3 linked regions of the Homo sapiens genome follow. The protein of the gene in region 1 interacts with the protein of each later gene in a pairwise test. Each region holds a gene or a part of one and is shown in the gene's direction. Other genes may lie near its edges.

Region 1 (7,700 bases):
CTGCCTCCTATATTACCTCTCTGTTATTATTCTCCCTCAATCTCCTTGTTACCCAGACTTGAAATATTGGCACCTGCTCCAGTTCCTTTCTTACTCTCTAAACAAATCAGTCCTCAAATCTCACTGGTTTTACCTCCAAGGTTCTCTTGGTGCCATCCCCATGATTAACGTCAGAGTTTAAGCTTCTATTCCCTCTCTCCTGAACTTTTACAATAGCCCTTACTTGGATCTCTGTAACCACTGCGCTCAAGGCTACTAGAAAAATATCCCCAAGGAAAAGCTCCGATCATTTCACTCCCCTTCCTAAAACTCGTTGGGGGTTCTTCATTACCCAACAATAATGGAAAGGCCCAGTTCCTTAGCTTGATTTTCAAAGCCTTCCAAAATTTGATCTCGAGCTTATATTCCTTAACTACTCTGTCCTTTCCTGCTCCCTTCATTCACTGTGCCTATGCACACTTTCTTTGCCTTCCTTCATACCACCCTACTGCCTGAATACTTTCTGCCCTGTATCTGCATGTCCAAACCGAAGTATAGTTTAACCCCATCTTGAAGCTCCACTGTAGTGATCCTTTAAACTGAAAGTTATTTCTCTCTGCTCCGAATTAGCAACATATTTAATTTGTATCTCTTCTATAACACATATCTCTTTCTATTTTGTAACATAGTTCTTTGTGGACATTACTGTGGTATCATTGTAGGATAGCGTCTATAATCTAACTTTGTATCCACAGTATTGCCTAACTGTGCTAATACCGATAAGAGGGCCAGTGAAAAATTGTTTAGCAGGAACTGCTGAAAAAAATTAAACTCTGAACTGAAAAAGTAGTACTGAGGCAGGATAGGCAGTCAAGGAAGTGCCCATATCCTCAGGACGCAGCAACCATGGTGACCCCAACAGTCAACACAATAAGCCTCAGCATTTGAATTGTGATTGAACTCAGTCGAGCAAAGCTATCTTCAGTAGGAAATTTCTTCTATAGAGAGCATGAGCACTTTGATTTTACCTGTCCTCAAACTGACCTTTTGCTCATTATAATAGCAAAAAACATGCCCTTGGGTGGAGATTTACAATGCTAATGGGACACCTGAGGGAGGAACATGGGTGCACAGCTACTGCACATGTGCAGCCAGAGGACCAACCAGAAGATGCTTACTACTAGGTTGGTGCAAAAGTAATTGTGGTTTTTGCATTTAAAGTAATGGCCAAAACCGCGATTACTCTTGCACGAACCTAACGGTAACACTTCTTCCCACCTCCTTATGAATAATCATGCAAATAATACATGATTAGCAATAACCTCCAGCAATAATCAATGTTGTCTCATCCTTACGAGCAGCCTGCCCTGAATTCTCTCTCTCTCTCAGGGTGTGATGTCTATTTTGTACTTAGCTTTCAAAATTTTTTTTTCTTTTGCAATAAATTATGCTGCATCTCTTTTGCTGTATGTCTCTTGTTTAAATTCTTTTAAACTAAGAAGACAAGAACCAAGGTCTTGCAACAGCCTCCAACACTACCACATTATTTTTTGAATGGCTGAAGTCCCATCAAATTATGTTCCCCAATCGCTCTCTCTTCTTGTGAATGTTTTTCTTTCTTTTTTTAAAAAATTAAATATCTAATTTTAAAGGAGAACAGTGAATATTCTTTAAAACCTAAATTTAGTGTATCTTCCTTTCTTCTTTTTGTCGTATTTTTTTCACCATACGTAAGATTTCTCATTTCAACATAGTGAGTCCCACCATTTGACTATTGCAAGTTGTTTTATTCATTAATGAGGGTGACAGTTTTCTGTGTGAATATGCCCATCAAAAGAGTTTCCTATACAAGTATTTGCTCATGAAGCACTAACATTTTTATTTGGTCTTTCAATTTATGAAGAAAATGTAAGGGATGCCCATTTCTTTACCTGGGTGAAATATTAGTCTCTAAATCCCAGGCACCCCCAAATCAATCAGAGCAAAGAAAATATGGCACGTCTACTGTCTACTACACAATGGCTTTCACTTTTATCACATTATAAAACAGTGTTTCTCTATGTGGATGGATTTCTTCCCAGATTCACATGAAGAGCTTGTTACGAAAGTATATTCCCAAGCCCCATCTACATTCAGAATCTTTGGGGCTAGATCTCCAAGAATCTTCCTTTTTAATTAATCTCACAGATGATTCTTCGCCATGTTGGAGTTTATGAATCACAGGCTAAATTTGTGTCTTCTTCTAAAAATGCAAAGAGAAGCAGAGACCCCTAGAGAATTGCATAAGTGTGCCCTAAACAAACCAAGAGGGTTGACGAAGTCTGTTCATCTTCTCTCTTGTCTCAAAGTATCCTTGTTTCTTTGTAACTTCCTCCCAATACTTTATTTTGAAAATGTTCAAACATACAGAAATGCTGAAATAATTGTACAGTGGACACCCGTATACTTCACCTAAATATTACCATTAATATGTTACTGCAGTTGCTTTATTAGAGATCCTTGTTGTTGTTGTTTTTTTAACAATGATTTTTTTTTTTGAGACGGAGTCTCGGTCTGTCGCCCAGGCTGGAGTGCAATGGTGTGATCTCGGCTCACTGCAAGCTCCGCCTCCCAGGTTCACGCCATTCTCCTGCCTCAGCCTCCCGAGTAGCTGGGACTACAGGCGCCCGCCACCACGCCCGGCTAATTTTTTGTATTTTTAGTAGAGATGGAGTTTCACCGTGTTAGCCAGGATGGTCTTGATTTCCTGACCTCGTGATCCGTCCCCCTCGGCCTCCCAGAGTGTTGGGATTACAGGCGTGAGCTACCGCGACCGGCCTGCTTTTTTTTTTTTTTGAGACGGAGTCTCACTCTGTTGCCCAGACCGGAGTGCCGTAGCGCGATCTCAGCTCACTGCCACCTCCACCTCCCGGGTTTGAGCGATTCTCCTGCCTCAGCCTCCCGAGTAGCTGGGATTACAGGCACACGCCACCACGCCCGGCTAATTTTTGTATTTTTAGTAGAGACGGGGTTTCACCATGTTGGTCAGTCTGGTTTCGAACCCCTGACTTCAGGTGATCCACCTGCCTCGGCCTCCCGAAGTGCTGGAATTACAGGCGTGAGCCACTGCGCCTGGCCTATCACAAATCTTTTATCCATCTCTCTAGTCATCAACTCATCTTAATTTTGGATGAATTTCAAAGGAACTTTTAGACATCAGTAGTGTCTAATTTGGGATGATAGTGACTTGAAGAATAATGGGGCAATGAATCCTTGTAGCCCTGGTGAAAATACAGTGGCCTTCCTTGTTGGACAGAATTGGTGGCATCTTGGCCTTGGGAGGACATTCAGAGTGCATGTAATCAGAGACAGAAGGGTAGTTCTGGCTGGTTGTAGGTGGCCCCTGCAGGGCAGTATCTACTTGTCTCTATTCATTTGAATGGGAGCTTTTGTTTGTTACTGGAAGAAGAAAGGGAGGTTTGGGGCCACGGAGAAGATGTAGCAGCTGATGGCAGCAGAAACCCCTTCTCTCTTCCATGGGTTTTGAGACTCCAATGGAGAGATGAGTTAGAAGCTGACGTTTTCTGGGTTAGCGTTTAGCAGCAAGGTTTCGAGTCAGACTGCTTAGGCCTGCATTCCAGCTGCTCCTGGCTGTTTGACCTTGGATATGATTTCAGCCTCTTGGCCTCAGTTTTCTCATTTGAAAATGAATGTAACCGACTTTATACTGTCGAACCTACTTTATATTGTTGTGAACATCCTGTAACTCAATCAACTTCAGTTGCTAAAATATAATTACATTCCTTGACAAGTTCACACAAAATTAACATATGTGACTGTAGCAGTTGGTGACCAAGAAAGAGAAAAAGGAAATGATTTTGAAAAGTGAGCCTAAATGGAATTTCGGGAGACGCGGGAGGGAGCGATTCTGAAAGTCCTTACAGACAACTCATTGTACTTCAAATGAAATACGAATTCTTCCCTTGGTCTGCAAGGCCTCCACATTATCTGGCCTTTGCCTACATCTCCAACATCTCCTTTCCTCCCGTACTTATTCCTAGCGACACAGGCCTTTGGGCTTCAGATTGAGTCAAACTCATTTGGTCCTCGGGACATTTGCACTTTCGTGAAAGGCTCTCCCCAGAACTTTACAAGCCTGGCTTCTCACACTTTGAGTCTCATTCAATTCAAAGATCATGGTCCTCAGAGAGGCCTTTCCTGACCACTCAGTTTAGTAGTGGCCATTTAAGTAGAGCACCCAATTCTCCATCCTTTTTTCCTTCTCCTTCCTCTTCTCCTCCTCCTCCATCTTCTTTTTTTTTTTAATAAATTTATCAAGCCACCAGAAATGCTGAATCCATTATTTTCGTATCATATTTTCACGTCACTTATCACTATCTGAAATTGCTATCCATCTGTTTTCTTGTTTATTGTCTGTCTCTGTTACTAGGGATCCTGTGATTTTGGGTAGTACTTGGCTGTCACCCAAGTACCTAGAACGGGGTTCACTGCACACCGAAAGTACGCAAAAATACTAAGTGAATGAATGTCAGGAGGATGAAAGATGGAGGGAGGTGAGAAATCCATCAAAGGCTCACAGAAAGAACTCAATTCTTGGATGAAAGTCGGAAGAATCCCAACAGCTAACAAGCAAATTTGCTGAGAGGGGGCGGGGCGGGCCAAGGGCGGGGGCGGGAAGGGGCGGAGTCAGGCGGAAGCCGGGGAGAAGGCCCAGGAAGTGACGGCCGCCTCCCGGCTACCGGGGACTTCTGGAGTCCGAGAAGTCAACGGCGCGGTTGCTGCGGCCGCCGCGCTCCCCGGCCCGAGGCGATGGAGAACGGAGCGGTGTACAGCCCCACTACGGAGGAGGACCCGGGCCCCGCCAGAGGCCCCCGGAGCGGCCTCGCTGCCTACTTTTTCATGGGCCGGCTCCCATTGCTCCGGCGCGTTCTCAAGGGCTTGCAGCTGGTGAGTCCGCGGTCAGGGAGGGCGAGCCCGGGCTGGGGAGCGGGGTCTGGCCCGGGCTTGGGAGGCCGCCGAGCTCCTTCGTTTCAGCTTGGTTGTTCAGTAAAAGGAGGTTTCCACACCTCTAGTTCCTTCCCTCTCAGCCTGGGGAAGGGGGCGTTACCCTCCGCCCTTCCGCCGGGCGGCCCCTCAGTCCCAAGGCTCTCCCCATCGGGATCCCACGAACTGGGGCCACCCAGCCTGTTAGGCGGGCTCAGGAAATGCGTCGGAGACCCAAGTCAGCCACTTCAACATCTTTCACTCATCCTCTATGGCGACTTTCCTCTCTTCTCTCTGCTGCTACCCTGCATTATCGCCCACAGTGCCTGTATTTAGACTGTGAAGCGCTGTTTATCTTTCTCTGGCTCTTGCGGTTTTCCTGCTGCGAGCCCATGGGGGCAGTTTAACTTGCTGGACAAAGTCCTGCGATACCACGCGTGGCATTGAGATGTGTGTGTATGTGTGTCCGGTAAATTGTCTTCTAAAAGTTTTATATTGACTGGAAAAGAATTATTTCAAAATTGAGCAATATGGGTTCTAAGTGGAAAGTCAAAAGGACAGCTTTTTGTAAGTATGTGCGGATAGCTGAACTAGGACATGGTATGCATCTTTCCATTTTATTGAGTTTATTTTAAGCAGTTGAAGTACCATAAACCTGTTCGTGAAAACATCAAAGCATCTTTGAGATTTAAATTATTCACTTTACAGTCGTGTTGGCTCCTATGTACTGTTCCAACCACTGATGGTTGAACCAGTTTAGGAAAAATAGAAACAGTTTAGGTTCTATTTCTGCAATAGAACCAGTTTAGGAAAAATCCGAATGCTTATGATGTTTATGAGTTTTGTCTTACTTTGTTTTGTTTTTTAACCATTCTAAGTAAAAATTAGCTCATTGGTTTCCTTGGAAAGAACTTAAATTCTTACAACTCAAATGACCCGAAGTTAAATTCTTAGAACTCTAGTGACCTACTTTTATTGAATAGAAAAACAGAAGTCGGAAAATCGGCACTGCTGTTTAGCGATCAAAATGATCACATCTGCTGATGACTGGGAAATCATTTGAAAGCAAGTGATAATGTGGCCTATGGAACCCAGTAGGATCTGGCCTTATCTTTCTCCCAGTCTCCCTCTAGGTGGTTCCACACTGGCCACCTTTAATTTATTACGAGGCATCAGGGGCTCTTTCCTGCCACTGTTCCTTTGCATAAGCTGTTCCTTCTACCTTCTTCCTTCTTCCTTCTCTTCTCTTGTCAGCTGTCACATGATGATTTTTAGGTATTAGCTGTATTTCTCTGCAGTAAAGCTAAAATTTTCTACGTGAATAGTAGAACTCTTTAGAACAGAAAAGAATATTCATCTGAAGCTTTTTTTTTTTTTTTTTTTGAGACCGAGTCTTGCTCTATCGCCAAGGCTGGGGGCAGTGGCGCAATCTCGGCTCACTGAAACCTCCGCCTCCCGGGTTCAGGCAATTCTCGTGCCGAGTAGTTGGGACTACAGGCACGCACCTCCATGCCCGGCTGATTTTTTTTTTTTTTTTTGGTAGAGACGGGGTTTCGCCGTGTTGACCAGCCTGGTCTCAAACTCCTGACTTCAGGTGATTTTCGCCCTCCGGGCCTCCCAAAGTGCTGGGATTACAGGCGTAAGCCACTGCGCCCAGCCCATCTGAAGCATTCTTGCTGCTCGAAAAAAATCATCTGTATTGGTTTGCTGCCCACAAAATCTCCTGTTTTCAGTTGCCTTTATTATTTTCTTTCTAATAAAAAGTGGCAAAGCTAAAGTAAATTTTCTGATTACCTTCTTATAGTTTAGTAAACTGTAGTTTCGTATCTTTGGAATAGAACATAACCAGTTTCCTTCCTTATTGCTGTTATAGAAGAAAACATGGAACACAACCAGAAATTTTTGTGGTAAATGTTATACTTGGACACAGAGAAGATGAATTTGCCTTAAAAGATCGTTAGACTATTATTAGTTCTCCATCATTCATAAGAAGAAATGGAGAAAAAATAAAAACTAATATCTCTTTATGAAATCCATTTATTTGTTTATGGGGAAATTGTCATGTTACAGGAATGCTTTCTTTAATGTGGAGATTTAAAAGTACTTTTTCATTACTGCCTTTCACTTTGATGGTTGTCTTTTTGTTCCTTTGTTTGTTTTGATAATGTCTTATCTCTTCACAGTAACAGTATATTACAGGAATTATCCAGCAAGTCCCAAGAAGGTTACATATGAAGTCGGTAAAAGTTGTCTTCCAGCCTGGGGCTATAGGCAAGGTCTTTGCCTTAACTCAAATTCTTCCTTTAGATAGATTGGTTGTTTTACTTTAAATGTTTAATTTTTTTAAAAAACTAAACAGAATTGCGAGCTCCAGTAAGGAAACAACTGTAATGGAGAAACCCGTAATCAGAAGAGGAGGTGTTTTAACAAGGGACCTGCAAACCCTGTGAAATTTTATTCAAAATATTGTACACTTATATGTTTGAGTATATTATTCTGGACCCATAAATCTTAACAGAATCTCAAAGATCCTACAAGAGAAAAGCCTGCTCTAAAACTTAAAAACCAGACATTGTGTATATACTTAGGAAATTCTTACATTAGAGTCTTCGGAGGTTGAATTGAATTACCTCTGAGGTTCTTTGCACTCTTAAGGTTTTTTTTTTTTTTTCAAACCTCTGAGGCTCCATGGGGTTTGCTATTACAGAACTGAATTGAATATTGAAGGGATAGAGAGT
Region 2 (7,031 bases), on another chromosome or scaffold:
TTTAGCTTTTGTTTACAGATGCCTGTAAAGTATTGCCTAAATTTATTAGAGATACAGTATTCTGGTTATAAATTCTTGTTGTAAATAGGGAAACTTATGGTAGAGAATTTATCATTTAACTCTTGGTTAATATCTCCTGCCTTGGTTGGTACCCTGATAGCTTTAATAGTATACCTGTAACTTTGAAGAAGAAAATATTACATTTTCTTTTCTTTGATATATCCTAGAACTCACTTGAAAGCAGTGGGGTCCGGACAACCAAAAATGAAGAGGAGAATGAAAAGGAAAAGGAGCTCCAGCTGGAATATCTGCTGGGTGCCTTTGAAAGCCTGGGCAAAGCCTGGCCGCGAAACGCGGAGACCCAACGTAAGCACCAGAAACTGCATTTGAAGTGCTGTAACCAGAGGTTACTTAATGAGAGCGAAGAATTTTCTCTATGACAAATTATAGTTATTGTTTCTTATCGAGCCTGATTGATTAATAATGAGAATTATCCAGTGAAAGTTTTTTGTCTACATGAGTCTGTGATCTCACTGATCATTGTACCGCTGTAGCTAGGGCTGCTGTAAGAAAGTATCACAGACTGGGTGGCTTAGCAGAAATTTATTTTCTCACAATTCTGGAGGATAGAAGTCTGAGATTTCGAGATCAAGGCGTCAGCAGGGTTAGTTTCTCCTGAGACCTCTCTCCTTGGCTTGGGAATGGCTGTCTTCTCCCTGTGTCTTCACGTGGTCTTTGGTGTCTCTGTGCCCTAATCACCTCTTCCTATAAGGACACCAGGCACGCTGGATTAGGGCCCACTCATATGACCTCTTTAAAGGCTCTGTCTTCTATTTAATAATAATACAGTCAAATTCTGAGGTACTGGGGGATAGTATTTTAACATACGAATTTTGGGGGCACAGTTCCACCTATAATAACCATGATACATTTTATGCAGATAGTTTGATAGACGAGTTCTACTGATCTTCTTGATGATCATAGCTCTATTCAGAGGAATGCACAAAGTTTATTAGCAGGGTCTCTTTATCCTGAAATGAATGGTCTTGTTACCAAGTGTTCAGTAAGCAACTGAAATCCCTGTTTCAGTGAAAAACTCATTACTATTTGGACAATTTTCAGAACTGGACATGTATTTCCCAAAGATTAAATGAACAGTAAACCTCTATTATTGGATGAGGTTGCAGTTAGTTTGGAGTCCCCTGACAGGGCCTTAACCTTGGGATGATACTACCCTTTACACTTGATCTTAGCCAAAAGGCCAAGAAGTGATGATGCTACCCTTTAAGCTTGCCTTGTGTTGGGTCCTACAGTGCATCCTGCTGAAGATCTTAGTATTCGTTTTTTTTTTGTTTGTTTTTTTTTTGAGACAGGGTCTTGCTTTGTTGCCCAGGCTGGAGTGCAGTGGTGCAGTTCTTGCAGCCTTTACCTCCTGGGCTCAAGTGATCTTCCTGCCTCAGCCTCCCAAGTATTTGGGTCTACAAGTGCATGCCACGACACCCAGCAAATTTTTTTTGAAGAGGTGAGGTCTTGCTATGTTGCCCAGGTTGGTCTCAAACTCCTGGGCTCAAGTGATCCTCCCACTTTGGCCTCCCTCTCAAAGTGCTGGGATTATAGGTATGAGCCTCCATGCCCAGCGACAATATTATTGAATGTTATAAAAAGTACTGTTGATTATTTGTGATTGGATATGTCTAGAATCAGTTAAGGTTCTCTTTGAGCCCTGTCATCCTTTGTGTGAACTTATATATTTGCTATGTTTATAGGAAGGGTTTCCCAGAAGATACAAATTTGCAGGTGGTTTTATTTCTTAATATTATGTTATAGACTGCCATGGAAGTCCACTAATATGATGCCATAAAGAGTATTAACTTTTCCTTGATAGGTAGAGAAAGCTAAAGTAGGGAATTATATGAGAAAGATGATACAAACATAAAGCAGTTTATTTTAATATAAGACATAGAAGGTTGTTAATAGAAATGTGCATTTATTGAGAACCAAGGCCTTTTCTTTAGGAACTTAACTGTTACACATTGGCTTCTCATATATATCTACAATTTCTGGGTTTTGTTTCTTTAAAACAGAGAAAGAAATTTCAAGCTCTTATGAGACAATCCTAGTGCAGAATTCTAGATTTTTTATTGCCTCCCCCCATTTTTACATTTGTTTGAGCCCTACTAAATCCTACAGTAATTAAAAATAACTTCGTTGTTGAGTTTTCTGCTGATTCATCAGTTGGCATAATATTAATTATATAGTTATAATTACAGTTGCAGTTGGCATAACAGGTTTATAATAAAGCACTGTTGACTCTTGGTAAACCTGCAATTTGCAGAAGCTTGTGAGCATCTAGAGAGGAGCTTCTGGCCTCCAGAGTTCTTTCTGTGGCTGTCATTCAGGGAGTTTTGAGGGGCAAAGGGAGTGTGGTTAAAGTGCTTTCTCAGTTCCATGGAGAACCATATGCCTTGAAAGTGAATATTTGTGAACAATTATATTGCACCTTTGTGGGGGCAGTTTCTGATCAAGGAAATTTGTTTGGGGATTGAGTACAAAGTCATGCTGAAGTTTTTGGGGAAATTTCAATGGCTTTAATTAAAAGTATTTATTGTTTTATTTCTCTTTTTCCTGCTTTTCTCTCTCTTATCCTCCCCACCTTCTCTCTTTCTCTTTCCCTCTTCCTTTCTCTTGCTCTCTCTGCCTGTCCCTCATTTATTCCATCTCTTGTTCTTTTATACTGTCTCCTGCTCTGTCCCACCTTGTCTTTTTTTCCCAGGTTGTTATCGTCAGGAGCTGTGCAAACTGATGTGTGAACGGCTAAAACTCAGCACGTGGAAAGTGCAGCTAGGAGTCCTGCAATCAATGAATGCCTTTTTTCAGGGGTAAATTGCTTCATGGCTCAGTTTTTTATTTTGTTCCTCCCCGCAGCATTTTATGTATAATCAATGGAATTTTTATACATTTAAAAACTGGTAGCTAAAGTGACAGTGATACATACAGATAGAAATTGTGACAGGAAAGTTTTAGACTGTTTCTTAATAATTGGCATTTGTACCTTGCTTTCTGATTTGTATAGGTTAATGCTTTTGGAAGAAGAACATGCCGATCCTGAGGCTTTGGCTGAAATTCTGCTTGAAACTTGTAAATCAATCACATATTCTTTAGGTGAGTGTAGTAAACTAAAACTGATGAGGGAGTCCTAATTTTAAAGCTAAGGAGCTGAGCTTCAAATATTTCCTACTTTGTCTTAGGAACTAAATTTCTGAAATAGCTACTGGACTCTGCTACTTATTATACTCCATGTGTACCCCTTAACTGGAATATTTAAATCTGGAACTATAACAGGATTTTAGCATCTAGTTTAGAAAAACCTTCGTGACAAGTATTTTTACAAAATTGTTACTTGAAAGTAATTTCAAACTTACAGAATGGTTGCAACGACAGTACATGTAATACTCTGCAATATGTATACACTTTATGCAGAATCATTTGTTAACATTTTGTGCCATTTGCTTTGTCATTTGGACTTCTATATACATGTTTTTCTCCTGAACCATTTGAAAGTATGTTGCTTACTTCAGGCCCCCTTGTTCCTCAATTATTTAGTGTGCCACGGTACAGTTGTCAACTTTAGGTAGTAAACATGGATGCAGTTTTTTAAATCAAATGTTTATCGTTCATATTCTAGTTTGTTCAGTTGATTCGGTAATGTTCTTTATTTTTATTTTTATTTTTTTTGAGTTGGAGTCTCGCTCTGTCACTCAGGTTGGAGTGCAGTGGTGTGATCTCAGCTCATTGCAACCTCTACCTTCCAGGTTCAAGCAGTCCTCCTGCCTCAGTCTCCCAAGTAGCTGGGATTACAAGTGTGTACTGTCACGCCCAGCTGATTTTTGTATTTTTGTAGAGACAGGGCTTCACGAAGTTGGCCAGGCTGGTCTCAAAACTCCTGAGCTCAAGCAGTCCACCTGCCTTGGCCTCCCAAAGTACTGGAGTTATAGGCATGAGCCACCACACCCAGCCAGTAATGTTCTTTATAGGATTTTTTCCCCCTCCCCTCCATTAGGGAATCCAGTCCAGGTGATGATGATGATGATGATGATGATGATGATGATGATAATGGTTATTATTATTTTTGAGACAGGGTCTTGCTCTGTCACCCAGGCTGGAGTGCAGTGGCGTGATCTTGGCTCACTGCAACTCTGCCTTCTGGGTTTAAGTGATTCTCCTGCCTCAGTTTCCCAAGTAACTGGAATTACAGGTGTGTGCCATCATGCCTGGCTAATTTTTGTATTTTTAGTAGAGACGGGGTTTCACCATGTTGGCTAGGCTGGTCTTGAACTCCTGACCTCAAGTGATCTGCCCGCCTTGGCCTCCAGGATTATTTATTGAATTTTATTGTCATATATTTTTAGTCTCCTTCAATCTGGAATACTTCGTCAGCCTTTCTTTGTCTTAGGACATTGACAATTTTGAAGAATAAAGTCCCCCCGACTTCCCTTTTTGAAAAAACAGAATGTTTCTCATTTGGTGTTTGATGTTTTCTCATGATTATATCCAGGTTGTGAATTCCCAGTTGGGATACATACATAAGTGATGTGTCCTCACATTAAGAGGCACACAGTGTCCATCTGTCATCATTTGTGATGTTAATTTTGATTACCTGGTCAAGGTACTATCAGTTTTTCTCTACTGGATAGTTACTATGTTTTCTTTTTGTGTCTAATAAGTAGCCTGTGGGAACAGATCTTAAGATCATTCAAGTAATTTGTTTCTCTTCTTTAAAATTTCTTCTCTATATTTAGCATGCATTGATGATTCTTCCCTGAACCAATTTTTACTAAGATGATTTTGCAACTCTAGCACTTTGTCCACATTCACCATTTGATAGTTGGAATTCTGTTGTAAGCAAGATTCTTCTCTTCTGCCCATGTTTTTATTTATCTGTTACTGGCATTGATTCATGGAATCTTTCCCCCTTCAAATGGTTTATAATTTAATTTTTTAAATCTAATTCGTTATTCCAGTTGTCCCAGATTTGGCCAGTGGAAGCCCTTTCAAGCTGCCTCCTGTGTCCTTTTGACAGGTCACCGTCACTCTTTGTAGCACTTTTGTACTTTGTAGCATAACAAGATGATAAGGCCCATCTCATGCCTACCCTGCTTTGGGCTTGGTTGTGTGTTGATTTTTTTGGTAGACAATTTCACCATGAACCAGACGCCGTGTCAAAGAGTGGATGCCAAGGAAGCATGTTTCATTCGCAGTTGTTGGCAGCAGCATCCTTTTATGGATAAAGAACAGGCAGCCAACAGACCTCTCTTTGCTGAGTTCCAGGTGTCCCTGATCGGCTTAAACACTGGGTCATATAATGTTCTTTGGTAAAATGAGGAGGGTCATGTAGACCTAAGGATCGTTCTTATCCGTGATACGAAGATGATTTTGTGTTTGAGATAGTTTTTTCATCTCCCACTTCTAAAATGGATCATTTAAATATTGCCATTTGTTGTGGTGATTGGTATACTTGGCTGACAGGTTTTTGTTTTTCCAAAGTAAAGACTGTGGACATTAGCACACATTTCAAGTATTTGATACTTAGCAAAGGGAAGCTTCCTTTAAAAAAAAAAAATCAGATATACCCTTCCCTAGAGTTGTAATTTCTGGACATCTTTCTTTCAGCAACACAAATTTAATCTTGGAGGTTGTGTTTTTCAGGCAGGCCATATGAACTGTATGATATTTCTTTTTAGAAAATAAGACCTACTCATCTGTGAGAACAGAAGCTTTATCTGTGATAGAATTGCTGCTTAAAAAACTTGAAGGTAAGTTGTTGTTAGTTCTGACTGGGGGACCATAAAGCCATGTGGCATATGTTTTAGAAATTTTTTGTTTCGTTTTTGCTTATACTCTTAAGCATATACTCTGAAATACAAATCAGTATGTATGCACATGCAAGAAGAATGGACAAAGCCAAAACTATTAAATTTTACTAAATATTTAAATTTGATACACTTTTATATATTTTTAATATATTATTAAGCTATAGTTGTCTTAAAGTAATAAAGTTTTTGTTTTCATCGTGAATCCTGATTTAATCTTGGTTAATTACAGGAATTGGTTGACAGTGGCATGTGTACATGTAAATAAGCAGAACGACACACTGAAAAGTGGAGTTGGAAAAACATTTTTAACAGTTATCTACCTGAGTCATCAAATCTGACAGTAGCAATTTTCTTAATCCTATTTCTTCTCCCCTAACCTCTTTTTCTTCTAATGGTCTATCAGTGGGTGGGGTGGGGGGGAACTGTTAGCATTTTCTCCAGTGGTGTATCTGTTACTGACTTCAGAAGGAGGACCCTCTTCTTTTTTCTCTCTCTCTCTCAAATTGTTTTCACGGATTAAGAATGTAGAAGATGGAAACGTTTTTCCTGCAACCTTGTGTATTTGCTCTTTCTACTTCTCTATCTTTGCTTAGCAATTAAAACACCTCTCTTAGGGCTCCATCAAACAGAACTTTTAGACTGAGTAACGCTAAACATCTCCTAATCCCTTTTTTCCTTGTTGAGATAAAAGAGCTAGGCACTTAGTCGTATTACCGAATTCTCAGTTTGCCAGATATGTACTAATATAGTCCAGATGAGGAAAATAAGGCTGAAGGCAAGCTAAACTTGCCTGAAGCCACATTGCTAGGAAGTGACAGAACCTTGTAAACAAGATTTAAGATTTGATATACTTTCTTATTTTCTAAAAATTTCAATGTGCATGTAGTTCTCAGATGCTTTCCTCGAAGAAAAGGGAGTGTCATCTATTTATCTGACCTTGCAATTATGACATTTCTTAGAAGTTTTTTTTTTTTAACTGACCGTATCTTATGAAATGGTCTTGCGATGGTGTTGTTGAAATGACTTTTTTGCTGCAGTGTGCCTTGCCCTGATAATTCCTTCTTCCTACTATGCTTCAGTGTAATTATTTCTCTTACTCCCACTGATACTGGGGGAAGGAGAGGAAACTCCCTGATGTGCCTCTACGCTACTGTCAAG
Region 3 (4,796 bases), on another chromosome or scaffold:
TTATGGTGTTAAACCGTGGACAGTGTTACTTCTTGTCCAAGTAGTTCACTCTGTAGGAAAGGCATTTAAAAATTGATAGGCCAGGGTGTTGGACATGAAAATGAAATCATTTTTATTTTTTAAAGTTAGCTGGGCGTGGTGGCAGGTGCCTGTAATCCCAGCTACTACGGAGGCTGAGGCAGAAGAATCACTTGAACTTGGGAGGCAGAGGTTGCAGTGAGTTGAGATCGTGCCACTGTACTCCAGCCTGGGGGAACAGCGAGACTCCCTCTCAAAAAAAAAAAAAAAAAGTTTTTTAAGACTACCTTCAGTTCTTATTTCCCCAGTTTCTATGACTGCAGTGCATGCTCCATCAAGTACAAGTGAAACTAGACTACCCAAATCAATAATGGTTTTTTTTTGGGGGGGGGGGGGTAGAGTTTAGCACTTGTTGCCCAGGCTGAAGTGCAGTGGCACGATCTTGGCTCACCACAACCTCTGCCTTCCAGGTTCAGGCGATTGTCCTGCCTCAGCCTCCCAAGTAGCTGGGATTACGGGCATGCACCACCACACCTGGATTTTTGTATTTTTAGTAGAGACAGGATTTTACCGTGTTAGACTGGTCTTGAACTCCTGACCTCAGGTGATCCGCCCGCCTTGGCCTCCCAAAGTGCTGGGATTACAGGCGTGAGCCATTGTGCCCGGCCCAATAATGGTCATATTCTTGATGAAGCAAAGAAAACTTTTATAGTGGCCGAGCCTGGTGGCTCACACCTGCAATCCCAGCACTTTGGGAGGCTGAGGCAGGCGGATCACAAGGTCAGGAGTTCGAGACCAGCCTGGCCAGCATGGTGAAATCCTGTCTCTACTTAAAAAAAACCACCAAAAATTAGCTGGGTGTGGTGGCGCACACCTGTAATCCCAGCTACTCGGGAGGCTGAGGCAGGAGAATTGCTTGAACCCAGGAGGCAGAGGTTGCAGTGAGCCGAGATGAAGCCACTGCACTCCAGCCTGGGCGACAGTGAGACTCTCAAAAAAAAAAAAAAACTTTTATATCTTTCTTGATTCTTGTGAGTAGTAATATTTTTCTTTTCTATTTTTGATGCAGATGACGGTGGATATTCCATGAATTTTAACATGAGTTCTTCCAGGGGACCACTCCCAGTAAAAAGAGGACCACCACCAAGAAGTGGGGGTCCTCCTCCTAAGAGATCTGCACCTTCAGGACCAGTTCGCAGTAGCAGTGGAATGGGAGGAAGAGGTAAATGTTCCATGTATGATGATTTATGCTACTACCGTAACACAAAGAATTGAGAGGTGAATGATGCTTAAAATTTTAATTGGCCAGGCGTGGTGGCTCACGCCCGTAATCCTAGCACTTTGGGAGGCCGCGGCAGACGGATCACGGTGTCAAGAGATCAAGACCATCCTGGCCAATGTGGTGAAACCCCGTCTCTACTAAAAAATACAAAAATTAGCTGAGTGTAGGGCGGGTTCCTGTAATCCCCGCTACTTGGGAGGCCGAGGCAGGAGAATTGTTTGAACCTGGGAGGCAGAGGTTGCAGGGAACCGAGATCATGCCACTGTCCTCCAGCGTGGCAACAGAGTGAGATTCTGTCTCCAAAAAAAAAAAAAAAACAAAAAAAAAAAACTTTATTCATGGAGTCTGGGTGCGGTGGCTCACGCCTGTAATCTTGACACTTTGGGAGGCTGAGGTGGGCAGATCATGAGGCCCGGAGTTCGAGGCCAGTCTGGCCAACGTGGTGAAACCCTGTCTCTACTAAAGATACAAAAGTTAGCTGGGCGTGGTGGTGGGCACCTGTAATCCCAGCTACTCGGGAGGCTGAGGCAGGAGAATCACTTGAACCCAGAAGGCAGAGGTTGCAGTGAGCCAAGATTGCGCGACTGCACTCCAGCCTGGGTGACAGAGCGAGACTCCCATCTCAAAAAAAAAAAACAAAACTTTTAGTCATGTGTTCTAGGTGATTAGATAAATGGAATTAGCACTGAAAAAAATTTAAAATATGAATGGGAAATTGTAGAAAATAAAATTAGGTGATCTAGCCTCCGTAATGTCATCTTTGAAGTCAGTCTCATTATTTTTCATAGCCTGAATGTAAGTTCACGTTTTAACTTTTTTCTCTGGCTATGTTTAAAAAAATGATATTTTTCCTTAAGCTCCTGTATCACGTGGAAGAGATAGTTATGGAGGTCCACCTCGAAGGGAACCGCTGCCCTCTCGTAGAGATGTTTATTTGTCCCCAAGAGATGATGGGTATTCTACTAAAGACAGGTAATAGAAAAGTGCAGCTTTTTAAATTAATAATTAAGGTTGAAGGAAAGCTTATCAAAAGCATAAACCAAAACTTTTGCTTTGTAGCTATTCAAGCAGAGATTACCCAAGTTCTCGTGATACTAGAGATTATGCACCACCACCACGAGATTATACTTACCGTGATTATGGTCATTCCAGTTCACGTGATGACTATCCATCAAGAGGATATAGGTAAGTGACTTTGCTTCTGTGGCTTACATGTAAGAAAAGTTGCAATGAAAGTTGATTCTCTGGGACTTAAAGGTTTCTCTTTAATTTAGCGATAGAGATGGATATGGTCGTGATCGTGACTATTCAGATCATCCAAGTGGAGGTTCCTACAGAGATTCATATGAGAGTTATGGTAAGATACTGGTTAAGGGTCTTTAGTATCACCAGCTTGAGTTTTTAGGTTCGTGAGCCAGTTTATTAGGCTGTGTGGTGCTTGCTTTTAAAGGGATGTTTGCTTGCTTTTAAAGGGGTAACTTTATCAGCTGGGCTTTTCCTAGTTTTGTGAGGGGCTTTTTTTGTTTTTCTAAGTTTCTTTTGAGGCTGTTTGCTTGCTTTGGAGGGGATTTTGCTTGCTTAAATTGGCAGCCTTATGTGTTTTCCCCCAACAGTGAAAATACAATTTAAAAATTTTATTAACAAGATCAAATATTTACCATTGCAATATGAAGGCAAGTTCTACAGTTCAAAATTGCAACTTATCACTGGAAAGTGGCTGAGTGTCTACTATAAAATAACAAGCTCTCTGGAATATCCTCTTGAAATACACACCGTCTTCAGTCTTTTCAAACAAACATTAAAATGAATCCAATTCCATATCTCAGCAGATGAGCAAATCCCTGTTATGGCCAGCAATGGCAGAGTTTAAAACCTCCCACCCAGTTGAGAAAGTAAACTTTTAATACAAGAATTCTGTAAATTCAGATTTAAAATGTTGTATATATACAATTTATAGTGTTGCCATATTACCTGACCATTGACCCTGCAGGTAACTCACGTAGTGCTCCACCTACACGAGGGCCCCCGCCATCTTATGGTGGAAGCAGTCGCTATGATGATTACAGCAGCTCACGTGACGGATATGGTGGAAGTCGAGACAGTTACTCAAGCAGCCGAAGTGATCTCTACTCAAGTGGTCGTGATCGGGTTGGCAGACAAGAAAGAGGGCTTCCCCCTTCTATGGAAAGGGGGTACCCTCCTCCACGTGATTCCTACAGCAGTTCAAGCCGCGGAGCACCAAGAGGTGGTGGCCGTGGAGGAAGCCGATCTGATAGAGGGGGAGGCAGAAGCAGATACTAGAAACAAACAAAACTTTGGACCAAAATCCCAGTTCAAAGAAACAAAAAGTGGAAACTATTCTATCATAACTACCCAAGGACTACTAAAAGGAAAAATTGTGTTACTTTTTTTAAATTCCCTGTTAAGTTCCCCTCCATAATTTTTATGTTCTTGTGAGGAAAAAAGTAAAACATGTTTAATTTTATTTGACTTTCGCATTGCTTTTCAACAAGCAAATGTTAAATGTGTTAAGACTTGTACTAGTGTTGTAACTTTCCAAGTAAAAGTATCCCCTAAAGGCCACTTCCTATCTGATTTTTCCCAGCAAATGAGGCAGGCAATTCTAAGATCTTCCACAAAACATCTAGCCATCTAAAATGGAGAGATGAATCATTCTACCTATACAAACAAGCTAGCTATTAGAGGGTGGTTGGGGTATGCTACTCATAAGATTTCAGGGTGTCTTCCAACTGAAATCTCAATGTTCTCAGTACGAAAAACCTGAAATCACATGCCTATGTAAGGAAAGTGCTATTCACCCAGTAAACCCAAAAAAGCAAATGGATAATGCTGGCCATTTTGCCTTTCTGACATTTCCTTGGGAATCTGCAAGAACCTCCCCTTTCCCTTCCCCCAATAAGACCATTTAAGTGTGTGTTAAACAACTACAGAATACTAAATAAAAAGTTTGGCCAAAACCAACCATGAAGCTGCAAAGGTGCTTGCTCTTACTGTTTCAAATTTTTGCAACTCTGTAGTGTCTCACTTTTAAAGGAACAGCTTGATTGCAAAGGAGAAAATAGATAAGCAATGAAGTTATCTCCAACTTCCTAAAGGCTTATGACTTCTAAAAAGTGAATCTATCAGCATTCCACATCAGATTTAAAGCATCAAATGCCTGTGAAACAGCAAAGATGGTAAGCAAAGCAAACTAGTTTTTCCGTCTAAGTCGAAATTGAACACTTACCTTCCTCATAGTACAGTGAAACATACTGTACCTCAAGGCAATGGAAATGCCTTCTAGATTAAAAAAAACTTTTGGAAAAAAGAAATATTCAATAGCGTATTAGAAGTCCTCCAAATTCAACACTTGGATTTTTTTTTTTTTTTTTTAAAGCATGTGTGACACTTAAAGGCTTTATTAATAGAGCTGTTGTTTACCAATGGCGATCTGGGGCTTGGGAGGGGGTATTTTTTTCAAAGTCCATTTTTGATG

The links. Proteins that work in one complex are often made in the same cells at the same time.
Region 2: the proteins of CMTM6 (region 1) and ECPAS interact in binary tests that used the Homo sapiens proteins (3 or more experiments, as listed by UniProt).
Region 3: the proteins of CMTM6 (region 1) and RBMX interact in binary tests that used the Homo sapiens proteins (3 or more experiments, as listed by UniProt).

What each region holds. Positions count from the first base shown.
Region 1 is NC_000003.12:32,499,834-32,507,533, reverse strand, and holds the start of CMTM6 (CKLF-like MARVEL transmembrane domain-containing protein 6), read left to right. Parts: upstream 1-4,681; 5' UTR 4,682-4,788; coding exon 4,789-4,926; intron 4,927-7,700. UniProt on the Homo sapiens protein: Master regulator of recycling and plasma membrane expression of PD-L1/CD274, an immune inhibitory ligand critical for immune tolerance to self and antitumor immunity.
Region 2 is NC_000009.12:111,362,370-111,369,400, reverse strand, and holds part of ECPAS (proteasome adapter and scaffold protein ECM29), read left to right. Parts: intron 1-227; coding exon 228-366; intron 367-2,773; coding exon 2,774-2,879; intron 2,880-3,073; coding exon 3,074-3,162; intron 3,163-5,741; coding exon 5,742-5,813; intron 5,814-6,102; coding exon of another isoform or gene 6,103-6,113; exon of another isoform or gene 6,114-7,031. UniProt on the Homo sapiens protein: Adapter/scaffolding protein that binds to the 26S proteasome, motor proteins and other compartment specific proteins. May couple the proteasome to different compartments including endosome, endoplasmic reticulum and centrosome.
Region 3 is NC_000023.11:136,872,947-136,877,742, reverse strand, and holds the end of RBMX (RNA-binding motif protein, X chromosome), read left to right. Parts: intron 1-1,087; coding exon 1,088-1,240; intron 1,241-2,157; coding exon 2,158-2,272; intron 2,273-2,359; coding exon 2,360-2,485; intron 2,486-2,574; coding exon 2,575-2,657; intron 2,658-3,290; coding exon 3,291-3,601; 3' UTR 3,602-4,282; downstream 4,283-4,796.